Regions from separate parts of the Homo sapiens genome. Here region 2 is linked to region 1. The links come from fine-mapping of genetic effects on gene expression. Tissue or cell type: testis. Region 1 holds a variant in brackets; the other region holds the start of a gene. All regions are shown on one strand. Distances are from middle to middle.

Region 1 (8,000 bases):
TAGCAGGAATTTCTGGTGTCAGGGAAAAAAATCAGCTTGGTGTGCAATTAGCCCAGTGGCGGTGCACAACTGTAGTCCCAGCTACTCAGGGAGCTTGGGCAGGAGAATCGCTTGAGCCCGGGAGGCGGAGGTTGCAGTGAGCCATGATTGTGCTGCTGCACTCCAGCCTGGACGACAGAGAAAGACCCTGTCTTAAAAAAAAAAAAAAAAAGGGCGGGTGTAGTGGCTCACACCTGTAATCCCAATGCTTCAGGAGGCTGAGGTGGGTCATCACCTGAGGCCAGGAGTTCAAGACTAGCCTGACCAACATGGTGAAACCCCATCTCTACTAAAAATACAAAAATTAGCTAGGTATGGTGGCAGGTGCCCGTAATCCCAGCTACTCGGGAGGCTGAGGCAGGAGAATCGCTTGAACCCAGGAGGCAGAGGTTGCAGTGAGCCGAGATGACGCCACTGCACTCCAGTCTGGACAACAAGCGTGAAACTGCATCTCAAAAAAAAAAAAAAAAAAAAAAAAGGAAGACATCAGAAGTTCCTTCGGGGAGTTTAGCTTCTAGGAAGTCGTTTCCACACGTGACAAAATCCACAATTCCTAATTGGCTTTCTTACCCAGTGTGGGTTACCTTTTCCCCAGGTGTCTCAAAAATACCTTTTTGCCTCAAACACGAGTTTGCTGTCATGAGAAGCCAAACGAGGTCATTGGAGAAATTTCATGGTATCCCTCCATCTCCATGGCTATAGACTTGTAAGAAAGCAAGGTAGAAATTCACCACGTACTGTTATTATTTTATTTAATTTTTTACAGATGCCACCATGCCCAGCTAATTATTTTTTTAATTTTTTTTTCACTCTGTCCCCCAGGCTGGAGTGCAGTGGCGCAATCTCGGCTCACTGCAACCTCTGCCTCCTGGGTTCAAGCAATTCTCCTGCCTCAGCCGGCCAAGTAGCTGGGATTACACGCATGCGCCACCACACCCAACTAGATTTTTATGTTTTTAGTAGAGAAGAGGTTTCACCATATTGACCAGGCTGGTCTTGAACTCCTGACATCAAGCAATCCACCCGCCTCGGTCTCCCAAAGTACTGGGATTACAGGCGTGAGCCACAGTGCCCGGCCTTTTTAAAACTTTTTTTAGAGGTAGGGTCTCACTGTGTTGTCCGAGCTGGTCTCAAACTCCTGGCCTCAACGGATCCTCCCACCTCGGTCTCTGAAAGCGCTGGGATCGCAGGCCTGAGCCCCCAGCTGGTCCCCAGCGTGCTATAACTATTGGTACCGCTGGTGATGCTTGGGTGGCCATGCTGTTAGGATGGGCTCAGGAGGGAGGTGGGAGTTGGAGGAGGTGGAGATGGTCTATGGGAAAGAGTCCAAGCTGAGGGGCCATTGAGGGGACCACAGGGGAACAGAGCAGCTGGCCCAGGTGGCCCTTGGCTGCTGCACGCCTCCCATACCTGTCCCTGCTGCCCCAGGCACACCCCTGGCACTGAAGCAGCTCCCGAAACCCCGCACGTCCCTCCGTGGCTTCCTGTACGAGTTCTGTGTGGGGCTCTCGCTGGGCGCGCACTCAGCCATCGTGACGGCCTACGGCATTGGCATCGAGTCGGCACACTCCTACAGCTTCCTGACGGAGCCCGTCCTGCACGGGGACCTCATGGCCTTCATCCAGCCCAAGGTGCGTAGGCAGACCCCAGGCCGCCTCCGAGTGCCTCACCGGCCTCCCAGGAACGTCCTGAGCAGCCTGGGCCGCAGGAGCCACAGCCACTGCGTTGGGCCTCCCTGGGCCTCCCCTACCCCCCGGAGGCCCCTCGTGGGGCCCACAGGACTCGTGGAGTTGTTAGGCCTCTTTGGAGTTCATAGACATCACAGAACTCACACGATACACCATGGAGACTCACCAGGCAGCCCCAGGTCACACTGGACCCCAATCAAGTCACAGGCCCTACAGGGTCACCCGAGGCCCCGCTTAACCTACAGGTCCTACAGGGTCACCCCAGACCCCACTAAACCCACAGGCCTCACAGGTCACACTAGGCCACACTAAACCCACAGGCCTCACGGGTCACACTAAGCCACACTAAACCCACAGGCCTCACAGGTCACACTAGGCCCCACTAAACCCACAGGCCTCACAGGTCACACTAGGCCTCACGGGGTCACCCTAGGCCACACTAAACCCACAGGCCTCACGGGTCACACTAGGCCACACTAAACCCACAGGCCTCACGGGTCACACTAAGCCACACTAAACCCACAGGCCTCACAGGTCACACTAGGCCCCACTAAACCCACAGGCCTCACAGGTCACACTAGGCCTCACGGGGTCACCCTAGGCCACACTAAACCCGCAGGCCTCACAGGTCACACTAGGCCTCACAGGGCCAACTATTCACCGTCTTCCTTACCGGCCTCCTTGGCGTCCTGGGCCTGCTTCCTGGGTCTCGGTTGCCTTCCGTGGCCCCGGGGCACTGGGCCCTGACCCCTCTCCCCGCAGGTGGGCCTCCCGCAGCCCGCGGTGCACCGCTGCGCCGCCCAGCTGGCCTCCGCCCTGGAGTACATCCACGCCCGCGGCCTGGTGTACCGGGACCTGAAGCCGGAGAACGTCCTGGTGTGCGACCCGGCCTGCCGGCGCTTCAAGCTGACCGACTTCGGCCACACGAGGCCTCGCGGGACGCTGCTGCGCCTGGCCGGGCCGCCCATCCCCTACACGGCCCCCGAGCTCTGCGCGCCCCCGCCGCTCCCCGAGGGCCTGCCCATTCAGCCCGCCCTGGACGCCTGGGCGCTGGGCGTCCTGCTCTTCTGCCTCCTCACGGGCTACTTCCCCTGGGACCGGCCCCTGGCCGAGGCCGACCCCTTCTACGAGGACTTCCTCATCTGGCAGGCGTCGGGCCAGCCCCGGGACCGCCCTCAGCCCTGGTTCGGCCTGGCCGCCGCGGCCGACGCGCTTCTGCGGGGGCTGCTGGACCCTCACCCCCGAAGGAGGAGCGCTGTGATCGCCATCAGGGAGCACCTGGGGCGCCCCTGGAGGCAGCGGGAGGGCGAGGCGGAGGCAGTGGGAGCGGTGGAAGAGGAGGCTGGGCAGTGAGGAGGCCCCGGGGGATGCAGAAAGGGAAGCCGCCCCACCCGAGGCCCCCAAGGCCAACGGCTTTTGGTGTCTCCTCGGTGTGTTTTCATCCATGGGGCTTGGGATTCCCCTCGGCGTCCTCCTCCTCTCTCCTCTCTGCAGGCTGCATTCCTCCCTTGGTCCATGAGGGCCTCAGACCTCTGCATGTCCCTCCATACCTGCCGCCACCTTCCCCAGGGTCTCAGACCTCCGCGTGGCTCTCGGTACCTGCCGCCACCTTCCCCAGGGCCTCTGCACTTGCTGTTTGCTCAGGGCACTTTAGGCTCATCCCCTCACCCCTCGCATTTTTATTTTTTTTGAGACAGGGTCTCGCTCTGTCTCCCAGGCTGGAGTGCAGTGGTGCTATCTCTGCTCACTGCAGTCTCAAAATCCACAGCTCAAGCAATCTTCCTGCCTCAGCCTCCTGAGTAGCTGGGACTACAGGCATGCGCCACCACGCTAGGCTAATTTTTAACTTTTTTTAGAGATGGAGGGGTCTTGCTATGTTGCCCAGGTGGGTGTCAACTCCTGGCCTCAAACAATCCTCCTGCCTCAGCCTCCTGAGTAGCTGGGACTACAGGCATGCGCCACCACGCTAGGCTAATTTTTAACTTTTTAAAAAGATGGTTGGGGGCGGGTCTTGCTGTGTTGCTCAGGCTAGTCTCAAATTCCTGGCCTGGAGCGAGTCTCCCACCTCGGCCTCCCGCAGTGCTGGGATTACAGCTGCGCGTTGTAAATGCTTACTGTCTGCCTCCTCATCCCCCCACTCTGCTGTTGCTCTAGGACGTGTATCCTCTTCTAACTGCATGGCTTATTTTTTGTGGTTATTTTGTGAGCTCCTGGAGTCGGGGGTCTTTGCCGCCTTCCGTCTGCTGACAGACCCCATGTACTCAGCGATGGCCTGCAGCAGGGATCAGGAAATGTCTGTTAAATAAATTAGCCTGTCTGGTGTGGCGCAGCCTCCCCTCCGTCCCTGTCCTCCCGCCGTCCTCTCTCCTTCTCTCCGGCCGGGTCTCCCTCCCACCTGGCACCACCCTCTCTGTGATGTGTTTTGCCTTCTCTCGCCCCAGCCACTCTGCAAATAAACTCCATCTGGCGCTCAGATCCCAGTGCTGCTGCGAGTCTGTCTGCTCGGGAACGAGAAGGGGAGTGTGCATCAGAGGACGTGTGGAGGAGGGAGGGGGGTGCAGAGGTAGAGAGACAGAGACACAGAGAAACAGCAGGGAGAGATGGAGAGAGACAGAGACACACACACAGAGAAACAGAGACGGGGGAGAGAAAAAGAAGGAGAGATGCAGATAGAAAAACAGACACACAAAAAGAAACAGGTGGAGGAAGAGAGAGAGAGAAACAGACACAGACACATACAGAGATAGAAAGAGAAACAGACAGAGACAGAGAGAGAAACAGAGATGGAGAGAGACAAACACAGGAAGAGAGACACAGACAGAAAAGAGACAGAGAGGAAGGGAGAGAGAGAGACGGAGGGGCGAGGATGAGCTGCCTGAGCTCATGGTGCTGCCTGAGCCTCCCTGCTGTCCTGCAGGGGGTCCTGATGGCAGAGCTGTGGGCAGGAGGGAGTGAGCCACCTGCTTCTAAGAATCCCTCTCCTTTACCAAACCAAAGTTTGTGTGCTAACAATGGAATGAAAGATATGGTTCTCAAAGCTTCCATCAAGGAACTCTATATGCATGTGTGCATGAGTGTGTGTGAGTGTGCATGTGTGTGAGTGTATGCGTGTGCATATGAGTGTGAGAGTGCACATCTGTGCAAGTGTGAATGTCGTGAGCATGAGTGTG[T/C]GCCAGTGAGTGTGCACGTGTCTGAGTGTGAGTGTGCGTGCATGCGAGTGTGCACATTGTGCGAGTGTGTGCGCGTGTGTGCAATTGTGAGTGTGTGCATGTGTGTGCAAATGTGTGCAAGTCAGTAATGTGTGAGCATGAGTATGTGTGCCAGTGTGCGTGTGTCCATGAGTGTGAGTGTGCATGTGTCCATGAGTATGCGTATGTGTGCCAGTGTGCATGTGTGTCCATGAGTGTGAGTGTGCATGTGTCCATGAGTATGCGTATGTGTGCCAGTGTGCATGTGTGTCCATGAGTGTGAGTGTGCATGTGTGTCCATGAGTATGTGTGTGTGCGTGAGTGTGCACATGTGTGTGAATGTGTGTGAATGTGTGTGTGCAAGTGTGCACATATGTGCAAGTGTGAATGTCCTGTGTGCATGAGTGTGTGTGCGATTGAGTGTATACATATGCATATGTGAGTACAAGTGTGCACATGTGTGCAAGTGTGAATGTCATACGTGAGCATGTGCCAGTGTTCATCTGTGTCCACGAGTATGTGTGTGCATGTGTGTGCAAGTGTGAACGAGTGTGCACATGTGTGCACATGTAAATTCGTGGGTGAGCATGAGTGTGTACGCCAGTGACTGTGCGTGTGTGTCCATGACTTGCGTGTGTGTGCACATGTGTGCAAGTATGAATGTGTGTGCGTGCGTGTGAGTACAAGTGTGCACATATGTGCAAGTGTGACTGTCCTGTGCATGAGTGTGTGTGAGTGTGTGCGTGTGTGTGCGATTGAGTATGCATATGCATAAGTGAGTACAAGTGTGCACATGTGTGCAAGTGTGTGTCATGTGTGAGCATGAGTATGTGTGCCAGTGAGTATTCATGTGTCCACGAGTATGTGTGTGTGCATGTGTGCAAGTGTGAATGTGTGTGCATGTATGAGTGTGCACATGTGTGCACATGTAAATTCGTGGGTGAGCATGAGTGTGTACGCCAGTGAGTGTACATGTGTAAGCATAAGTGTGTGTGCACGTGTGTGCAAGTGTGAATGTCATGTGTGAGCATGAGTATGTGTACGCCAGTGTGAGTGTGCATGTGTGAGCATGTGTGTGCACGTGTGTGAATGCATATGCATGGAAAGGAGGGAGGATGGCGTTGTGTGTCTCACTGCACGTGGATGATAATACAGCTTTGTGCCTGCTGTGTCTGCATGAGCATCTGAGCTTGTGTGTGCTGACGTACTTGTGTGTATGGGGAGTGAATGTGACTTGCTATGTGTGGACATCGGATCCGTGTGTGTGCGCGCATATGCCTGTCAATGTGTAGCCAGGGTGGGAAGGTCACGCAGGCGCCGCGGGCGGGCGCCGCCTGGGCCTTCTCTCCTTCGCACCTTCCTCCTCTCTCCCCCGCCCCTGCTTGGCAGCTGCCCTGTTTGCAAACACTGTCTCTTCCTCTCCGCGCCCTCCTTGGCCTCAGGCCCAGAGCAAGGCTACAACTCGGAGCTGGATCGTGTGTCACGCACTCCCTGGCCCCTGCATACCCCGCAGGGCGCCTGCTGTGGCCACCGAGGTGTTGCCTGGAGCGGGGCTGACAGCAGGTGTGCTCCTGTGGAGTGACCCCAAGGAGCCTTCGAATCCAGGTTCAAGCCATAGAGTTGGGGCCTCTGACCTGGACAATCCGGGTGAGCTTCCTGGAGTAGGGATCATTGGGGAGAAGAGGGGAGTCAACAACGCGGGGGGTGGGGGGTGGGGGTGGAATATATCAAGACTTCCTGCCCCTTTATCTGTGAATCTGAAATAGCCTGAGCTGTTAGGCCAAGAATGTGTCCCAAAAAGCTGGAGGTGGCTGGGATGCGGCATGCTGGGTGGGAGTGGAGACTGGGCAGGGGGCAGGGGGGCACGAGGTGTTGATTGCTGGCGGCAGCTGAGGATTATCTGAAAGGTGATAATGACCAGCCTGTCATGGGTGAAGCACAGGGGAGGACATAAACTTCCCAGGAATGGCCTGACCCCGGCAGGCAGGCAGGCAGGGACGACACTAATTAAGTAATGCTTAGTGCTGGCCGGAGGCTGAACCCCAACCAGGGATCTCAGAGGCCACGTCTGCTCCCCGACCTGTCCCCAAGATGGTGGCGGGGGTCCCTGGGCTCTGCCCATCTCACGCACGGGGCAGCCAGGTTCCCGCCGTGCCCACACACCGGGCCGGGGGGCAAAGCCTGGAGTCGAACCCAGCTGGGCTCCAGCACATGGTCCCTGCTGTTAACCTGCAGGGATGTCCTGCCGTGCTCAGCGGGAGGAGGGGCTTGGGGGCACGGGGGTGTGGGTGAGTGGGCGGGTGGGGGTGAGGGTGTGTGTGCGGGTGATTGTGAGTGTGCATGAGGGAGTAAGCTTGTGAGCGTGAGCGAGCTGTATGTGTGGGGGTGAACATAAACGTTTGATTGAGTACAGGTGTAGATGTGAGTGTAAGGATGAGTGTGAGATTATGAGACTATGTGTGAGAGATCAAGACACTGTATGAGAAAGCATGCACGTGTGTGAAAGAATATAAAAGCATGGGCGGGCGCGGTGGCTCATGCCTTGAATCCCAGCACTTTGGGAGGCTGAGGTGGGACGATCACTTGAGGCCAGGAGTTTGAGACTAGCCTGGGCAACTAGTTTATTGAGAGTTTGTATTATCTTTTTTGCTTCTTTCTTTCTTTCTTGTTTTGTTTTGTTTTTGTTTTTTGTTTGTTTGAGACAGAGTTTTGTTTTCGTCACCCCGGCTGGAGTGCAGTGGCACGATCTCGGCTCACTTCAACCTCCGCCTCCTGGGTTCAAGTGATTCTCCTGCCTCAGCCTCCAGAGTAACTGGGACTACAGGCACCCGCTACCACGCCTGGCTAATTTTTGCATTTTTAGTAGAGACAGGGTTTCACCATGTTGGCCAGGCTGGTCTCAAACTCCTGACGTCAAGTGATCCTCCTTCCTTGGCCTCCCAAAGTGCTGGTATTACAGGTGTGAGCCACCGTACCTGGCCTTAGTAATTTTGCTTTCAAGTATCATTATTTAAGAAATACATTTTGTAAGGCTATAGCTGTCATATATAGTGATTCCTCTGATGGATCTGGACAAAGTCAATTG
Region 2 (8,000 bases), 41 kb after region 1:
AAAGAAAGGAAAGAGAAAGGGAAAGAGGGAGGAAGGAAGGAAGGAGAGAAGGAGGGAGGGAGCCCCTGAGCTCTCACCTAACACCCCCCAACCGCTGTTTGCTGGGTTCTATCCCAGGTCCAAGGGGTACAGGAGAGGGGAGGGACCCCCTGGGAGACATGAGGGGAGGAGACCCCGCGCTGAGGGGGCGTGAATGAGGGGAGATGGAGGCTCACCCGTGGGTGTCCCCACCCTGCCTCAGTCTCCCTCCATGCCCCCAAGTCACCGCCCTCCCTCCCTCCTTCCCACCAGCTCCCTTGAGGATGGGGAAGGAGCAGAGGTTGGCCACAGAGACAAGAGGTCTCCGAGACGGTCCCCTGCCATGGCCAGCCCGGTGGCAGAGGGCAGGCAGGGCTTCTTGCGTTCCAGGACTTGGCTCAAGCCTGAGGCAGGCATTCTTAGCTCCATCGCTCCTTCAGGAAAACTGAGGCTTAAACAAACGGTCACTGGCCTAGGCCCCGGGACAGGGCTGAGCACTAGCCCAAGCCTCAAGCCTGCTCCTCCCATTCCTGGCAAGGAGAACGGCAGGAGCTGTGGAAGGAGGGGCTGGAGAGCGTGGTGAGTGGGCGCTGGGCATGCAGAGAGCAGGCGGGCAGGAGGCAGAGCTGGGAGCAGGCCCGCTGCAGCTTCCTGGAGGGGCAAGAGGGAGCTGGGGTCTGAGGAAGACAGGAGGGGGCCAGGCCCCAGCCCGACGTACCGGTGCAGACCAGCCCCGCATCCTCGCTGTGGTCACAGTTGCTCCGGCCCCAGGGGCTTCGGGGGCAGTCTCGGAGGGCCTGTTCTCCTCCTCCACACCCCACATCGTCCATCCACACGGGCCCTGCACCAGGCCCGAATCTGGCACCGCCGGGGGCAGCCAGCGCCCCCCCACAGCCCAGTTCCCGGCAGGCTACAGCAGCGTCGCGCAGGTCCCAGCCATCGTCACATACGGTGCCCCAGCGCCCGCCGTGCCAGACCTCCAGGCGTCCGGCGCACCTGTGGGGGCCAGAGACCAGGCGCAGCCGCTCTGTGGGGTGAGCAGGGAGGGGACGGTGTGGCCAGTGAGAAATGATTCAAACACCCCTTCCTCGATTTCCACCTGGGGAAACAGGCCTGAGGGAGCGGTGGCCTGAGATCTGTCCGCCGGCAGCCCGTGAAGAGGTGAGTCCACGACCTGAGCGGGCCAGGACACCTGGGCCTCCTGACAGGGCAGGAAGAAGAGGGGAGACCAGGCCTGGCCGTCTAAATCCCCGGGGGAGGGACGCGGGGAACACTGGGATCCCTCCAGGGCCCCGGCTAAGGAGAGGGCGCCCGCAGGTCCTCAGTTTTTCTGGGCCCTGGGCCTCACAGCAACCAGCCTTGGGGTCGGGGGAGCCTGCAGGGAGCTTACCTTGGCGGGGGGCTCCTGTCGTCAGCAGAGGGGCCCGGGTGGACTTGGCCTGCTTGGGCCGGGGGCTCTTCTTCCGGGAGGCGTTCTGGGGGTTCCCAGCTGGGCGGGGGGCTGGGAGTGGAGACAGCCAGGGGTCAGGAGCTGAGCCCCTCATCCTTCCTCCCACCTGGGGGCCCAGGCCTCCGTCTCTGAGGGTCTGAAGTGATGGAGGACTCCCTAGGCTATGAAGGAGACGGGGCGGGGCAGGGGGCGGGCTGTGTGTCCCCTGGGAGTTCATACTGCAGAGGTCCCTCTCCCCTCGGTGGGGGCAGGAGGGCACGCTGGGTGGGGGTTGGCAGGGCAGTCCCTCTCCCCTCGGGGGGGGCAGGAGGGCACGCTGGGTGGGGGTTGGCAGGGCAGTCCCCTGGGCTCACCATGTGTCACCAGGGGCTCCTCCGTGCTGGGGCTCAGCTCCAGCAACAGCCCTGGCCAGGGAGCCCCATCCAGGGGAGATGTTGAGTCGTCCCTGGAGTTAGCCACACGCTGACCTGCGGCGGGGGGGCAGGGACAGAAGCTATGAGGAGAGGAGGGGAATCCAGGCCATTTGGGTCCCTGGAAGAGGGAGTTAGCCACCTGGCTTTGGAGGGGATGGGAGGTTGGGTGTCTCTGAACTGCTGAACACTCAGACTTGCTGGGGCTAAGGACTTGGGGTTCCTGGGTCATCTCCAAAGGAGCTCCCCCTGAAGGAGCAGCCAGGGTGTCCTCACCTGCGCAGACGACGCCCGCGTCCTCCTCGTGGGAGCAGATGTGGGCCTTCCAGCCCCGGTGGTGGCAGAGGCCCAGCTGCCCCTCGTTGCCCCGGCAAGCCAGCTCGCTGAGCCACACAGGCCCTGCCCCCTCCCCGAAGAAGGCGCCTCCCGGGGCGGCCAGTGCCCCTCCGCAGCCCAGCTGCCGGCAGGCCACGGCGGCATCGCGCAGGTCCCAGCCGTCATCACACACGGTGCCCCAGCGCCCGCCATGCCAGACCTCCAGGCGGCCAGCGCACCCATGGGGGCCATCGGCCAGGCGCAGGCGCTCTGAGGGTTGGAGGAATGGCTGTGACTGGGGAGGGGCATCCTGGGGGCCCCAAGGCCAGGGCAACTGTAGGGGCAGGTGGCTGTCCTGCAGGTACTGTCTGTAGGCCAGTGGCCCTGCTCACTGGCCCCTGGGCCCAGACTCCTGGGTGCTCAGAGAGATGCGGCCAGACACCTGGGGGATTCCCTTGCGGAGCTGGGGCCAAGGTCACAGTGGAATTCGGATGGGCCGGGGACCCAGTGGGGGTGAGGCCAGGCCTGGATGGGCAGAAGGGGGAGGCCTGGGGGGGGGGGCGGGCAGATGGGAGGAGTCTGGGCACTTACCAACAGCCTGGATCCCCACCAGGGCCGCTGGAAGGGAGGGCGGAGGGTGGGGCAGTGTGAGGGGCAGGCCGGGGGTGGCCCTTTCTCCAGCGCAGGCCCCTCATCTTGAATACCCCAACACACACACACACACACACACACACACACACACACACACACATGGGCTTGGCTAAAGGTCAGATGTCTGGGAGATCCCCCGCAGGGTCAGGGCTGGGGGGCGGGCAGGGGGCAGGTCCCTTGGGCTTCTGGGCTGGCAGAAGGCTGGGCAGATTGAGCAGGGATCCTCAGAAGGGATGTCAGGGTATGCAGGAGCACCAGCGACCAGTCCCGGAAGTTTGAGTCCCTAAACTGGACAAGCTAAGGGGTCAGAGGTGGGGGCCTAGGCCCCCCGAGTCCCCAAGGAGAATGGATCACTCACCAAGGAGGCAGGCCAAGACCCTCATGGTTGCAGCCAGGGCAGGGGATGGGGTGAAAGGGGAAGGAGAGCGGGGAGAGAAGAGGAGGAGGCAGCTGGGGAGAGAGGGAGGGAGGGAAGTGCCTGCTGGAGGCGCCCAGGCCCGAGGAGGAGCAGGCAGGGCTGGACGCTTTGCCAGGAGGAAGAAAGAGGCTGCAGGGAGGCGGCAGGGGACGGTGGGGGGGAGGGGGGGCGGGAGGGGGCTGGCCGTCTGCTGAGGCATGGGGGGGAGGGGGGTGGCGGGCGGGAGGGAGGGTGTCCAACTGCAGACACCCACACGGGAGATGGAGACGACGGCCAGGCAGGCTCCAGCCAGCAAAGTGCTGTGCCCAGAGATGCTTAGGGGGTGGCCGGCTGCAGGAAGGCACAGGACAGGGGTTGGGGGACGTGTGCGGGGGGGGCGCAGCATGAGCGGGAGGGGCGCCCACCTGCTGTCTCCCCTCTTGTCTGGTCAGGGAAATCCAGTGAGACCACTGCTAGGGTTGGGGGCTGGGCAGACCTGGGGTTCTTGGTGCAGCAGCAAGAAGATTTGCAGCCAGACACCAGGAGGGACTTCCTGGGTTAGGAAAAGAGACTGAAAGACCCGGCCCTCCAGTCCTCCCACTCACTGGTGGATCTGAGTGTGAAGCCCCCAGTCCCCAGCTGAGAGAGGAGAGGTTGAACTTCACTGTCCCAGAGGGAGCTGGGGTCGGGGGATAAGCAGCACAAGGGTCAAGGCTTGGGAAGGGGAGGGGCTCCACACACTCTTCCACACACTCACACACACACACACACACCCCACTGCCTGCACACCAGGCAGCTGTGAGGCGGAAAAAATTCGGTAATGGGGAGCGTGACTCAGAAGGGCTGGCAGGGCCTCGGGCTGCCCCTGAGCTCACAGCCTCCCCTTCTCCCAGTCCAGCACCGTCCCCCAACAATTAATGTTAACTGGGGAAAGGAGAAGCCAGACAGAAATGGGCGGGGGTGTCCGGAGACAGACTGGGAAAGCCATCAGAGAAGAGACAGGCACACAGCGGTTTCAGGCTTTATTAACAAACGGTGTAAAAAACCAGACGGATCTGGAGGAAGGGACAGGGCTGCCCGTCTCAGCTCTCAACCTTCCCAGAGAGGGGCCAGGCCTGGCAGCCCTGTGCGTCGCGCCTCCTAAGCAGTCAACCTTGTCCCCTCCAAGGACAGGCATCTGACCCAATCCAGGTCCCAGGGAGGCGGAGTCGCAAACCCTAACTCTGGGGTGTATTCTGCTCGGCCTCCTCTCCCCCTCCCCAGATAGCTCTCCCAGCCTGGGGCACGGACAGCACAGACTTTGCAGACATCACCCGGGGAGGTTTCTCAGTGCAGACAGGAGCTGAGGTAGGGGTTGGAGAGGCTGACCTCGAGAGGCCCCCGAGGGCCAGGAAGGAAAAGGAGTCATTCCACTCTGAGAAGCTCAAACACAACAGACTTCACACTGCTGACGGGTGGACAGAGGCCAGGCTCCTCCCCTCGGCAGGCCTCTGTTTCTGGGCCCAGGGTGGTTGAGGACTCACTGAGGGAGAGCAGGTAAAAGAACCCGCAGACAGTAGGCGATCATCAGGTGCTGGCGCCCCTCCCTCCTCCCCTGCCCTGGCTGTCAGTCTGTAGCTTCACAGGTCTTTGCTGAATTCCCTCACCAGCGTGTAGCCCAGGCAGCCCCAGCCCCCCTCGGCCTGGTAGCCACAGCCCTCCAGCATCCCTCCCACCCCCCAGGCGGCCACAGCCACGGGGACCACGAGCCGGGCCCGGGGCTCCCCCATGCCCCCAGCCCAGGCCCGAGCCCGGGCCTCCGCGAAGGCCAGCAGCCTCCTGCCCACGCCCCGGCGGCGGTGCCAGCGAGAGACAGACAGGCGGGTGACCCGGGCCCCGTCCCCTGCATTTGTGCCAGGGGCCAGAGCCAGGACCCCACACACGTCACCGGAGCCCCGCACGGCCACCCAGGGGCCCCCCAGGCCACCCGGCGGAGGCAGCGAGCCCCATCGGGCCCGCAGGCCCAGCTTCACGGCGGCCACAGCCAGGAACACCGGCAGGAGGAGGGCCAGGGCGAAGGAAGCCAGGACAAAGCGCAGGCCGCTGCTGGCCGCCGCCAGGAGGAGCAGGGCCGGCGGCCGTGTCAAGGCATGGAGGGCCACGCGGTTTTCCGTGTCCTTCACGCCGGCCTGTGGGCAGGAGGGGTGGCTCAGCCATCCGAAACGCTAGGGCCTCCTGGACAAAGAGAGGAGGTAGACCCTGCCCGGGGCGGGGTGAGAGCTCCCAAATGGGAAGGGAAGGCAGCACAGTCCGATGTTCAGTGTGGCACACTGGGTATGGAGTGAATGAATGAACGAGAGCGAATGATGGATGGATGAGTGAATTAGGAGCTGTGGGGGCACTCAATTCAGTAGCAATGCCGCAGTGAGGCCCCAGGGAAGTAAGGACAGGGAGGTTGCCTCAGGCTGGAGTGGAGGCTGGAGGGAGGCTGCTGGGCTAGGTTGGGGTGCTGGGCTGTGCTTTGAAGAGTTGGGGTCCGAGGCACAGAGCTGGCTGTTGTGCTGGCGTGCACAGCCGACTGGAGATGGGAGACCAGGGAGGGCGTTGGTGCTGGGGTCCCAGTAGGGCTGGGGGGGTGAGCCCCCACCTGCCACACCTGCTGTGGTTTTCAGCAGCAGGGCGGCTGAGGCTCAGGAGGAAAAGATCCCGCTCCAGGGGTCCAGGCTGGCTCAGGTGGGTGGGAGGGGGTGGCTGAATCCACTTGCAATTCCCCCACTGCAGCCACTCCCAGGCCCCCTGGGGCCCCTGCCTCTCACCTTCAGCATCTCCAGCACCAGGGGCTTCTCATCTTCCCTCATCTCCCGCACTGACAGGTGGCTGGGGGCCATGGCAACCCCCAGGCCCCGGCCCCCCAGAAGGGAGCTGGCGTCGTGCACCTGGTGAGAACATAAGTAGGTCAGCGTCAGGGGGGCACCTCTGTCCCCAAAGCTCCCCCGAGGGGTAGGGAGCAGCAACGGCACTTCCCAGATCAGGACACTGAGAACCCTCGGGGCCCCCAAGCGAGGATCTCGGCAGGACAGGCGCCCCCCACAATACTCAGCGACCTTGCTAAAGTCTCCCGGGATCCCCCCTCCCCCGTATTATTCAGCGATCTACACTCCCAAACGCGCTGCGGACGCCAACACTGCAGCACGGGGCTCCCTCCCAGGCACTGGGGTCCACGAACACCCTCCCCACATGCCAGAGAACGGACCACGCTCGCTCCACCCCGGTCCCCAGCGCCCCCTCCCCCACAGTCGTCCCCGTCCCGCGCCACAAGAACAAGGACCAGCAAGCACCTGCACCGGTCGCCTTTGGTCCTTCGACAAGGTTTCGGGAGCGGGTCTGGAAGGGGGTCGCGGGCGGAAGTGACGTCAGACCGCGCGCGGTGGGGCGGGGCGGCGCCCGCTCCGGGCCGTAGCAACCGTTGCTAAGCTCCCCGGAGGGCGGGCTGGGAGGAACCGAGCTGTGACCCTGCGGAGGGCCGGGAAGCGACCTCTCCTATCCCTAGAGAAGGAGCAACGGGGAAAGGGGACCTGGGGAAGAACGGGAGCGGAAGCCGGCAGGAGACGGGCGGCGGGCTGGGGACCAGCGCGAGCTCCCGCCCCACGTTCCCTCGTTGCTGAGCAACCTGAGCGCCGGGCGGCGACGCCAGCGCGTGGATTCTCATCCGTGCCGGGGCCTTCGCGGGAGGAGCCGGCCACGCTCAGCATCCTGGCGCCCGACTCCCCCATCCCCAGGGACCCCACTCCACCCACGGGGCGCCCGGGGTCGCAGAACCCTTCCGCATAAGGATCCCCCTACTTCTCACACGAGGGGGGCAGCGGGGCGACCTACAGTGAACAAGTAGCACTCCCTGGAGTCTGATGTCACCACCTCCCCACTATAATGACCCCTGCGGCCTTTTTTGGTTTCAGGACAGGGGAACTGAGCCCTACGTAGTGGCTGGCCCCAGGATGCAGAACAAGCCATCTGCGACCCAGGACGCAAGACTTAAGACTCCACGCTCCCAGGCGGGGGCTAGGACCATGACTTTGCCCCCTTCCCTCCCCCCAGGAAAACAAAACACAGGCGGGGAGACTCGGGTCTTTATTAGCAAGCCCAGCCTGCGGCACCCTGCCCCGCCCCGGCTGGCAGTGAGTCGGGGTCTCTGTGCGGGGCGGGAGGGGAATCACTGCCTCTCCTCAAAACGTGTGCACCAGCTGGACTGCGGGTAGAGTCTGGACAATCTGGATGGAGGGCAGGCCCTGAGGGGTCATAACACCAGGCCCAGCTCCTGCGGGGACCACTTGCACCATCTGGGAGGCTGGAGCCCCGGGGAGCCCCGCGGGGCCCGAGGCTGGGCCTGACGGCGGTGGGGCCAGGAGCTGCAGCGTGGCGGTGCCTCCTCCAGTGTTGCTGCTGTCCAGCAGCTCAGTGGCTGGGGCGCTGCGGATGATGAGGAGTTTCTGTCCGGGTGGGCCGGTGGCAGGCGGCTCCGTCAGCCCAGGAGGAAGTGTTTCTACCTCCTGTACGCAGAGTCGAGTCTGTTCGCCATCGGCCCCGCTCAGCACCAGCACGCTCTGCAAGCCCTCGTCCGTCTGGAGTGTCTCAAAGAGGACATCCTGGACCACACCAGTGCTGGCCTCGCCATCCCCCGCCTCCCCGGGGCCCGGGCCAGTGAGCAACTCCTCAGCTGCCCCGCTCTGAACAACCAGCAGGTTGGGTGCCTCAGTAGCCACAGCTCCCCCACTGGAATTGG

The links. PIP is the estimated chance that this variant, and not a neighbour inherited with it, causes the effect.
Region 2: SSC5D starts here. The variant in region 1 is fine-mapped to the expression of SSC5D in testis (GTEx, PIP 0.95).

Annotation. Positions count from the first base shown.
Region 1 is chr19:55,524,813-55,532,812 of GRCh38, reverse strand. It overlaps SBK2 (SH3 domain binding kinase family member 2), which reads left to right. Exons shown (of 4, transcript NM_001370096.2): 3 at 1,468-1,670; 4 at 2,490-4,202. The coding sequence ends at 3,080. Among named protein-coding and RNA genes, the nearest start is that of SBK2, 8.3 kb to the left of the region's middle. RefSeq lists enhancers at 1,107-1,607, 5,782-6,656. The variant T/C (reference allele first, on the strand shown) is at 4,898.
Region 2 is chr19:55,483,817-55,491,816 of GRCh38, reverse strand. It overlaps SSC5D (scavenger receptor cysteine rich family member with 5 domains), which reads right to left and starts at 3,381. Exons shown (of 14, transcript NM_001144950.2): 1 at 3,203-3,381; 2 at 2,785-2,811; 3 at 2,155-2,463; 4 at 1,822-1,935; 5 at 1,409-1,519; 6 at 737-1,045. The coding sequence starts at 3,227. ZNF628 (zinc finger protein 628) reads right to left here. Exons shown (of 3, transcript NM_033113.3): 3 at 7,330-8,000. The coding sequence ends at 7,444. NAT14 (N-acetyltransferase 14 (putative)) reads right to left here and starts at 6,629. Exons shown (of 3, transcript NM_020378.4): 1 at 6,559-6,629; 2 at 6,037-6,156; 3 at 4,251-5,409. The coding sequence starts at 6,108. The coding sequence ends at 4,861. RefSeq lists an enhancer at 5,990-6,319 and a silencer at 6,420-6,839.